Linked DNA regions of Homo sapiens: regions 1 and 3 are each linked to region 2. Evidence: fine-mapped expression QTL. A gene starts in region 2. Each other region holds a variant in brackets. All regions are shown on one strand. Distances are between the middles of the regions. Region 1 has its middle 2.8 kb from the start of LINC00957. Region 2 holds the start of POLM (DNA polymerase mu). Region 3 overlaps SPDYE1 (speedy/RINGO cell cycle regulator family member E1).

Region 1 (2,798 bases), 47 kb after region 2:
AGCTAATTTTCTTTAACATTTTTTTTTTGCAGAGATGGGGTCTTGCTATGCTGCCCAGGCTGTTCTCAAACTCCTGGCCTCAGGCAATCCTCCTGCCCCAGCCTCCCAAAGCACTCAGATGATTATTATACATCTTCCTTGCCAGGGTTGAAAGATTTGACTACATGGGCATTATTTAATTCTGGTCCCATTTTTTTTTTTTTTTTTGAGATGGAGTTTCACTTTTGTTGCCCCGGCCAGAGTGCAATGGTGCGATCTTGGCTCACCGCAACCTCCGCCTCCCGGGTTCAAGCGATTCTCCTGCCTCAGCCTCCCAAGTAGCTGGGATTACAGGCATGCACCACCATGCCCGGCTAATTTTGTATTTTTAGTAGACACGGAGTTTCTCCATGTTTGTCAGGCTGGTCTCGAACTCCCAACCTCAGGTGATCCGCCTTCCTCGGCCTCCCAAAATGCTGGGATTACATGTGTGAGCCACTGCGCCCGGTCAGGATATGACTGTTAGAGCTTGGGACTACAAAAGCAAGTTGGAAAATTAATAAATGCAAAGTCACAAAGCCTTGGCCACGGCTGGATTGACTTTGTAGCCCAGGGAATGCTGGCTGTCCAGACACTACCCCAAAGCTCACACCTCCGAGGCCTTCTGGGAGTGCCCCCCAGAGAGGCCAGGTCCTCCTCTCCCAGTTGCTGGGCACTTGGTCACCATCAGTCTGTGCTCTGCCCTGGCTGAGGTCACTCTGGGTCTCCCACGCCTACCCCTGGTGCTGCAGAAGGGGAGACTGAGGCCCAGAGATGGGGAATGGAATGCCCCTGGCTAGGTCCCTGAGCCTCCTCCTCCCTGACTGCCCCAGAAAAGCGCCCTCATCAAGTTAGCCAACATCCGGGCAGCAGAAAAGGTTGAGGAAAAGAACTTTGGCAGCTCGCACGTCATGCAGGTCATCTACACGGACGACGCCGGCAGGCCCCAGACTGCCTACCTGCAGTGCAAGGTGCGGGGAGGGGAGCGGGTGCTGTGGGAGTGGCCTGAACACTGTGGGAGTGGCTTGGGTGCTGTGGGAGTGGCCTGGGTACTGTGGGAGTGGCATGAGCCCTGTGGGAGTGGCCTGAGCTCTATGGGAGTGGCCTGGGTGCTGTGGGAGTGCCCTGGATGCTATGGGAATGCCCTGGGTGCTGTGGGAATGGCCTGGGTGCTATGGGAGTGGCCTGAGCTCTGTGGGAGTGGCCTGGGTGCTGTGGGAGGGGCCTGAGTGGACTGGATGAGAAAAGAGTTGATTGAGCCTCTCGCCCCGCTACCAGCTACATCAGGCACCGCAGGGTGTGTCTAATCTGGGAGGTGTCAGGGACAGGTGTGTGTGTGTTGTCCAGGGGCCTGAGCCCCCAGGAGGCCATGGCCCATGTCTTTCCCTGGGCATCCATGTGTAGGTCTGTGTGTGGGCCAGTGCACAGACAGGTGCATCCCCGTGATGTGAAATTTGCACGTTGCACCCGTTTGTTGGAAACTATTTCCAGATAACTGAGATGGGGGCCAGGCACGCTGGTTCACGCGGATAATCCCAGCATTCTAGCCGGGGCAACAGAGCAA[G/A]ACCCTTTCTCTAAAAAAGAAAGTCTGAGCTGGCACCTGTGTGGTTCTGTGTCTGTATCAATGCCTAATAATCAAACATTATGCTCTGTGTGGCTCTGGGTGCATGTTCTCAAGTAACCTTCTCATCTGTTCCTTCATTAACTCATTCATTCATTTATTTAAAAAATACTTACTGAGCACCTCCTAGGTTCCAGGCATGATTCTAGGTGAGGGGATACAGTGACAGATGAGGCAGAGTCCTGCCCTCATGGAGCTGATATCCCAGGGAGAAGATGGGCCAATAAATACATGTTTCAAATGTCGGCTCATGCCTGTAGTCCCAGTACTTTGGGAGGCTGAGGTGGGAGGATCACTGGAGGCCAGGAGTTTGAGAACAGCCTGGCCAATGTAGCAAGACCCCATCTCTACAAAAAAAAAAGTAGCCAGCCATGATGGCATGCACCTGTGATTCCAGCTACTTGGGAGGCTGAGGCAGGAAGATAGCCTGAACCCAGGAGTTGGAGGCTGCAGTGAACTATGATCACACCACTGCACTCCAGCCTGGGCTACAGAGTGAGACCCTGTCTCTTAAAAAAAAAAAAAAAAGCAAATTGTGATAGTGACTTGAAGGGAACCAGAAGGGACTAAGGGAGCAAGGGAGGGAAGAGAGTGGGGTATAGCAGGGAGCGGTCTGTCCTATTAAGAGTGGTCAGGGAGAATACAAAAATTAGCTGGGCGTGGTGGCGTGTGCCTGTAGTCCCAGCTACTTGGGGGGCTGAGGCAGGAGAATCACTTGAACCTGAGAGGTGGAGGTTGCAGTGAGCTGAGATCGAGCCACTGCACTCCAGCCTGGTGACAGAGCAAGACTCCATCTCAAAATAAATAAATTAATTAATTAGTAAATTAATTAAAGAGTGGTCAGGGAGGACCTCTGATGGGTGGCATTCGAGCAGGGACCTTGTAGGAGGGTGACCCAGATGTGTATCTAGGGCAGGGACATGTGGGACAAGTAGGAAGCCTGCAGCTGGAGGGGGGTTGGTTTCTTCCAGGCTTGACCGTCCTGGCCTGTGGGGAGGAAGTCACAGACCTGTCCCTCTGTGCCCTTCCCTCTAGGAGTTCCCTTTTGTGTCAGGGTCCAGAGCCACTGGGAAAAGTAGTGATATCAGGGCCACCAAATATATTTGGCGGGTTCTGGAATACCTACGAGCGTGGCCAAGGGGCCAGCGGCGGCTGAAAT
Region 2 (2,643 bases):
TCCTGGCTTCTGTATGTGGGTCCTGAGGCCCAGGAAGCTCTACAGCCCTGAAGAGGTAGATGAATTAGGAGGCTGGGAGATGGTGTAGGAGGTCAAGAGGATGCCTGGGCTGAGCCATCTCCCCCACTCCCCTCAGCCCTGTGCTCTGAGTGCAGAGATGGGGAAGAGCCAGCCCACTAAAGATGTCAGAGAGGAGCCAAAGAAAAAGGATAGGTGCTCAAGGAGTCTGGGGCTCAAGACTGAGGACGATGGGGCAGTGATGAGGAGAGGCATGTGGAAGGGGGTTGCATCTGATCTGGTGTCCCATCAGTTAGGCTGAGCAGTGCCACACTACCGTAACAGAGGTTACAAATGGAGTATATCTAAATAAGATAGACAGAAGACTTGATATTATCAAGACATCAGATTTCCCCAGCTTGATCTATAGATTCAATGCAATCCCAATCTTGGGAAAGGAATTGCTGGATCAATGTGTATTATTTTGTTTTCATTTTGTTGGATGTGGTTGCCACATTGGCTTCCACAGTCCTTCCTATGGATTGCCAATTACCTCGCACCTTCAACATGTGTGGTCAATTTTTTTGAATGTTTGATAAACCCACAACTGAAGATATTCTCATTTAGGTATTCTGTAACGACTGGACAGGTTGGGCACTCTGGTCATAAATTTATTGACCAGGATTTCTTCTAAGAATCATCTACGTGAGTTTTTTTGCTAATTTTTCTATTAAATTATTGTCTTTTTATCTATGGACAATTTGATAAGATTATCATGAGATAATCTTAATTCCAAAATATCTCACACTTTATCCCAGTTTATCTTCTGACTCTAATTTTTAATCAGATTTAAAATTTGTCTGTAGTCCAGTTTATCATTCTTTTCCTTTAGTGTTTCCAAGTTTATTGTGATATTTAGATCATAAAAACATTCACCGACTTTTTTCCAGTACGTTGTTGGTTTCCTTTTTAGATGGAAATGTTTGACCCATCTGGAATTTATTTTGGTGTTAAGGAATGAGGAAGGGCACCAACTTCTATTTTTCCAAATGGCCTGCCAGTTGTCCTAATGCCATTCGACTGAAAAATCTTCCCGCGTGTTTGAAGCGACCGCCCCACCAGCGCATTGGAAACCCGCGTGTCGGTCCTGCGCCCGCCGGCTTCCGTGTGACAGTCCCGAGCGCAGAGGGATCGGGCACAGCCCGCACGCGTCCGCCCCGAGCCGCCGGCTCAACCCTAGACCCAGCCCCGGCGCCAAGGACACAGCCCACCCCGCTCCGCCCGGGCCTAGGTCCCAGTTCACCCTCCCTAGCCGGGGACGCCCCCTTGACCCCGCCTCCTCCACCCCCTCCAACACCCTCCCCGCCCCGCTCCAGCCCAGCCTCTCCTCCCGGAGGCCAATGGGGCCGAACAGCGCTTTCCGAGACATTAATTTAAATAAAAGGCGGGTCCTCTGCCGTTATTTGCATGGAGGCGGGTCTTCCGGAGCGGCCGGGACACCCAATCCTGTAGGAGCCCGGACCCTCCCCAGCGCTCCGACTGGCCCAAGTAGCGAGCCCCACGGAGAGGCCTCATTTGCATAGGGCGGGGCCACGTCCTCTTCCAGCCGGCGGCCGCCCGCCCGCCCACCCGCTTCCGTCAGCCTCACTGGGGCTTCCTTCCGTCTCGCTCGGAGTTTCCCTCTGCGTTCGCTCCGCGCTGCTGGAGGCTGTCGTCCCAATGCTCCCCAAACGGCGGCGAGCGCGGGTCGGGTCCCCTAGCGGCGATGCCGCTTCCTCCACGCCGCCCTCGACGCGCTTCCCGGGAGTCGCCATCTACCTGGTCGAGCCTCGCATGGGTCGCAGCCGCCGGGCCTTCCTCACAGGCCTGGCGCGCTCCAAAGGCTTCCGCGTCCTTGACGCCTGCAGGTGCGGGGCGGCGCGGCGCGGCGAGGGCTTCCATGGCACTTCTGGTTTTGGATTCTAAGTTTGCAGTGGCACTTCGTGGTCTTGTGACCTTTCCCTGAGCCTCCATCTCCTCTTCTGTAAAGGGTGCTATTAATTAGGGCGAGGCGTGTTTTAAAGGATCACTGCGAGAATCAAAACCAGAGGTCAGGGGTAATTAATAAGCAGTAGGCCGGGCGCGGTGGCTCACGCCTGTAATCCCAGCACTTTGGGAGGCCGAGGCGGGCAGATCACGAGGTCAGGAGATCGAGACCATCCTGGCTAACACGGTGAAACCCCGTCTCTACTAAAAATACAAAAAATTAACCGGAGGTGGTGGCGGGCACCTGTAGTCCCAGCTACTCGGGAGGCTGAGGCAGGAGAATGGCATGAACCTGGGAGGCGGAGCTTGCAGTGAGCCGAGATCGCGCCACTGCACTCCAGCCTGGGCGACAGAGTGAGACTCTGTCTCAAAAAAAAAAAAAAAAAAAGTCGTATTTGCTAACAGCCCTTCTGCCTGGGCTATGTCCCACCTGTGAGCGAGACTGACTTCTCAAGAGGCCCGGAGCCCGCAGGCTCCTCTGTCCTCAGGCCTGAGTAAATAACACGACTGAGAAGCTCTTGTAGGAAGGGAACCAAGAGAAGAAAAAATGGCGGCTACAGAGACAACACCCAGAGTAAGGGAGCTGGGGGTGCCCCCTAGTTTGGAGGTTGAGAGAGCAAA
Region 3 (2,798 bases), 79 kb after region 2:
TTTGTGTGCCAGGCAGAGAACTGTCCCGAAGAGCTGAGAGTAGAGGGGCCAGGAGCTTCAGGGCTGCGGCCAGACTGTGGCCCAGAGCTCAGATCCCAAAGGACCCATAGGAGAGGCAGGGGCCACTCATTCACTCTGCAAGAGACCAGCAGAATCCTGAGGGAGATGCTGACAAATCATAAAAAGACCAAGAATAGCCGGGAGTGGCGGCTCAAGCCTGTGATCCCAGTACTTTTTGAGAGGTGGAGACAGGAGGATCATGTGAGCCCAACAGTTCGAGAACAACCTGGGCAACATAGTGAGACCCTGTTTCCACAAACATTTCAAAAATTAGTTGAGCATGGTGGCATGTGCCTAGTCCCAGCTCCTCAGGAGGCTGAGGAAAGAAGATTGCTTGAGCCCAGGAATTAGAGGCTGCAATGAGCTATGATCATGCCACTGCACTCCATCCTGGGGAGCAGAGCTAGATTCTGTCTCACAAAAAAAAAATTTGTGGGTGCCAAGACTCAAGACCATGGGAGCTGGTCGGGCACAGTGGCTGACGTCTATAATCTCAGCACTTTGGGAGGCCAAGGTGGGTGGATTGCCTGAGGTCAGGTGTTCAGGACCAACCTGGCCAACATGGCAAAACCCCGTTTCTACTAAAAACACAAAAATTAGCCAGGCGTGGTGGTTCATGTCTGTAATCCCAGCTGCTTGGAGGCTGAGGCAGGAGAATCGCTTGAACCCAGGAGGCATCGGCTGCAGTGAGTGAAGATCGAGACACTGCCCTCCAGCCTGGGCAACAGAGCAAGACTCTGTCTCACACACACAAAAAAAAAAAAAAAAAAAAGACTGTAGGAGCATCTGGTGGGAGGTGGTGGAGGGAGAACTGTGGGTTTGGAAGCTGCGCCCTCCCCCCAGCCATGCGTTGGAACAGGAACAGTTACATGGAGAACAACCTTACCTTGTCCGACACCCTCAGATCTTTGTCCCAGGCCAGGAATCTTTTAATGACAGGATCCTCTGTGATTAGAGAGCAGATGTCAGTGTGAGAAGCAGGACAGGGTTTCCGTGGGAGCAGCAGGGCAGCGAGGAGAAGTGTGCCTCCCGGGGGGAAGTCTCAGGATTGTGGCCGCGGGTGAGGTGGATGGGAGAGGGGAGAATGACTTTCACTGGGCAAGGGAGAGAGGCTCCTGCTCTGAGACTCCCCTGAGAAGAGGCCGAAGGAGGCCCTGGGTGTGAGAATCTACAGGATGTAGAGCTGGGAATCAGCCAGGACCCCCTCCAGCAGACACGGAGGGACCACTGCAGAGTCATAAAGGAATTCCCATCATTTCCTCATGAGACAGTCACACATCAGGGTGTGACCATGGCCTTGGTATCCCCCACTATGGATGGAGACACTTAGGTTTAGAAAAGTCAGTAAGAGACATTAAGTTTCAGAGGGCACAGCTGAAACCACTTTCTTTGTTTATTGATTTTGTTTTTCTTTATTTGATTTTTATTTTTATTTATTTATTAATTTATTTTGAGACAGAGTCTTGCTCTGTGGGCCAGGCTGGAATGCAGTGGCCTGATCTTGGCTCACTGCAACCTCTGCCTCCCGGGTTTAAGCGATTCTCCTGTCTCAGCCTCCCGAGTAGCTGGGATTACATGCATGAGCTACTGTG[C/T]CCAGCCTTGGTTTTTCTTTTGAGACAGGGTTTTGCTCTGTCACCCAGGCTGGAGTGCAGTGGTGTAGTCATAGCTCACTGCAGCCTCAAAGTCCTGAGTTCAAGCAATCCTCTTGCCTCAGCCTCCCAACGTGCTGGGATCTCAGGCGGGAGCCACTGCGCCTGGCCCGAAACCAAGCTTTCTTATCCCAAGCGCTGACCTTTATCAAGTTGACCTAATCCTTTATCATCTCCTAAGTGTCCCTCATGAGTGATCACTTCACATTCCTCCCACATGGAGAGCTCACCCACTGGGGCCTATTTTTCCCATTGGAAAAGTGTGGTTATTGGAAGTTTCCTGTTTTTGGAAAGAACAGGATTGGAGGTGCTCTCTGGGGTGTCCTCCTACCAAGCAGCCTGTTGAAGGCCTCGTGGTGCTCAGGGAGCACGAGCGACACTCGCCGTCGCTTCAGCTTCATCTTGAGGCCACACAGCATCTCCGCCACCCAGATCTCCTCAGGCTCAGGGGCGAGCACCTTCCGTGGCTCCTCCTCCGACTCCTCAGATTTGTCCCACCACTCCATCTTCCTTTTCCAGCAAAAGGACCTATGCGGGGGGCTGGGATCTACCCCAGGGGCTGAGTAAAGAAACCAGGCCACGGTGTAATGCTTCTGCAGTTGATCACACTAGAGCCCGACCCAAAACCCCAAACCACTCTCCATCCTCCCCAGCCTCGCAGACTGCTGGCTTCTCCAAGCCATCTTTCCTTCTGTCTGTCTCCTCTGCTGAGCTCCATGTGCCGCTCCTTCTCCTCCCCATTCTCCCGTTTCTCTGTCCTCAGAACACTTCCTCATATCCTTCCCTGGTCCCTGGCTCTCTGAGTCCCTTTTTTTTTTTTTTTTTTTTTGTTGTTGTTGTTGAGAAACAGTCTTGCTTTGTGGCCTAGGCTGGAGTGTAGTGGTGCGATCTTGGCTCACTGCAACCTCTGCCTCCTGGGTTCCAGTGATTCTCCTGCCTAAGCCTCCCAAGTAGCTGGGATTACAGGTGCCCACCAGAACGCCCAGCTCATTTTTGTGCTTCTAGAAGAGACAGGGTTTCACCATGTTGGCCAGGCTGGTCTCCAACTCCTGGCCTCAAGTGATCTGCCTGCCTGGCCTCCCAAAGTGC

Evidence for each region. PIP is the estimated chance that this variant, and not a neighbour inherited with it, causes the effect.
Region 1: its variant is the best candidate, but not a certain one, in a credible set for the expression of POLM in whole blood (Lepik 2017, PIP 0.63).
Region 3: its variant is the best candidate, but not a certain one, in a credible set for the expression of POLM in Th17 cells (Schmiedel 2018, PIP 0.57).

The regions. Positions count from the first base shown.
Region 1 is chr7:44,034,863-44,037,660 of GRCh38, reverse strand. It overlaps the pseudogene RASA4CP. Among named protein-coding and RNA genes, the nearest start is that of LINC00957, 2.8 kb to the left of the region's middle. RefSeq lists an enhancer at 778-1,277. The variant G/A (reference allele first, on the strand shown) is at 1,583.
Region 2 is chr7:44,081,512-44,084,154 of GRCh38, reverse strand. It overlaps POLM (DNA polymerase mu), which reads left to right and starts at 1,625. Exons shown (of 11, transcript NM_013284.4): 1 at 1,625-1,904. The coding sequence starts at 1,717. RefSeq lists a silencer at 1,060-1,639 and an enhancer at 1,351-1,851.
Region 3 is chr7:44,002,060-44,004,857 of GRCh38, reverse strand. SPDYE1 (speedy/RINGO cell cycle regulator family member E1) reads right to left here. Exons shown (of 9, transcript NM_001378423.2): 4 at 2,041-2,268; 5 at 947-1,005. It also overlaps the pseudogene POLR2J4. Among named protein-coding and RNA genes, the nearest start is that of SPDYE1, 5.6 kb to the right of the region's middle. The variant C/T (reference allele first, on the strand shown) is at 1,653.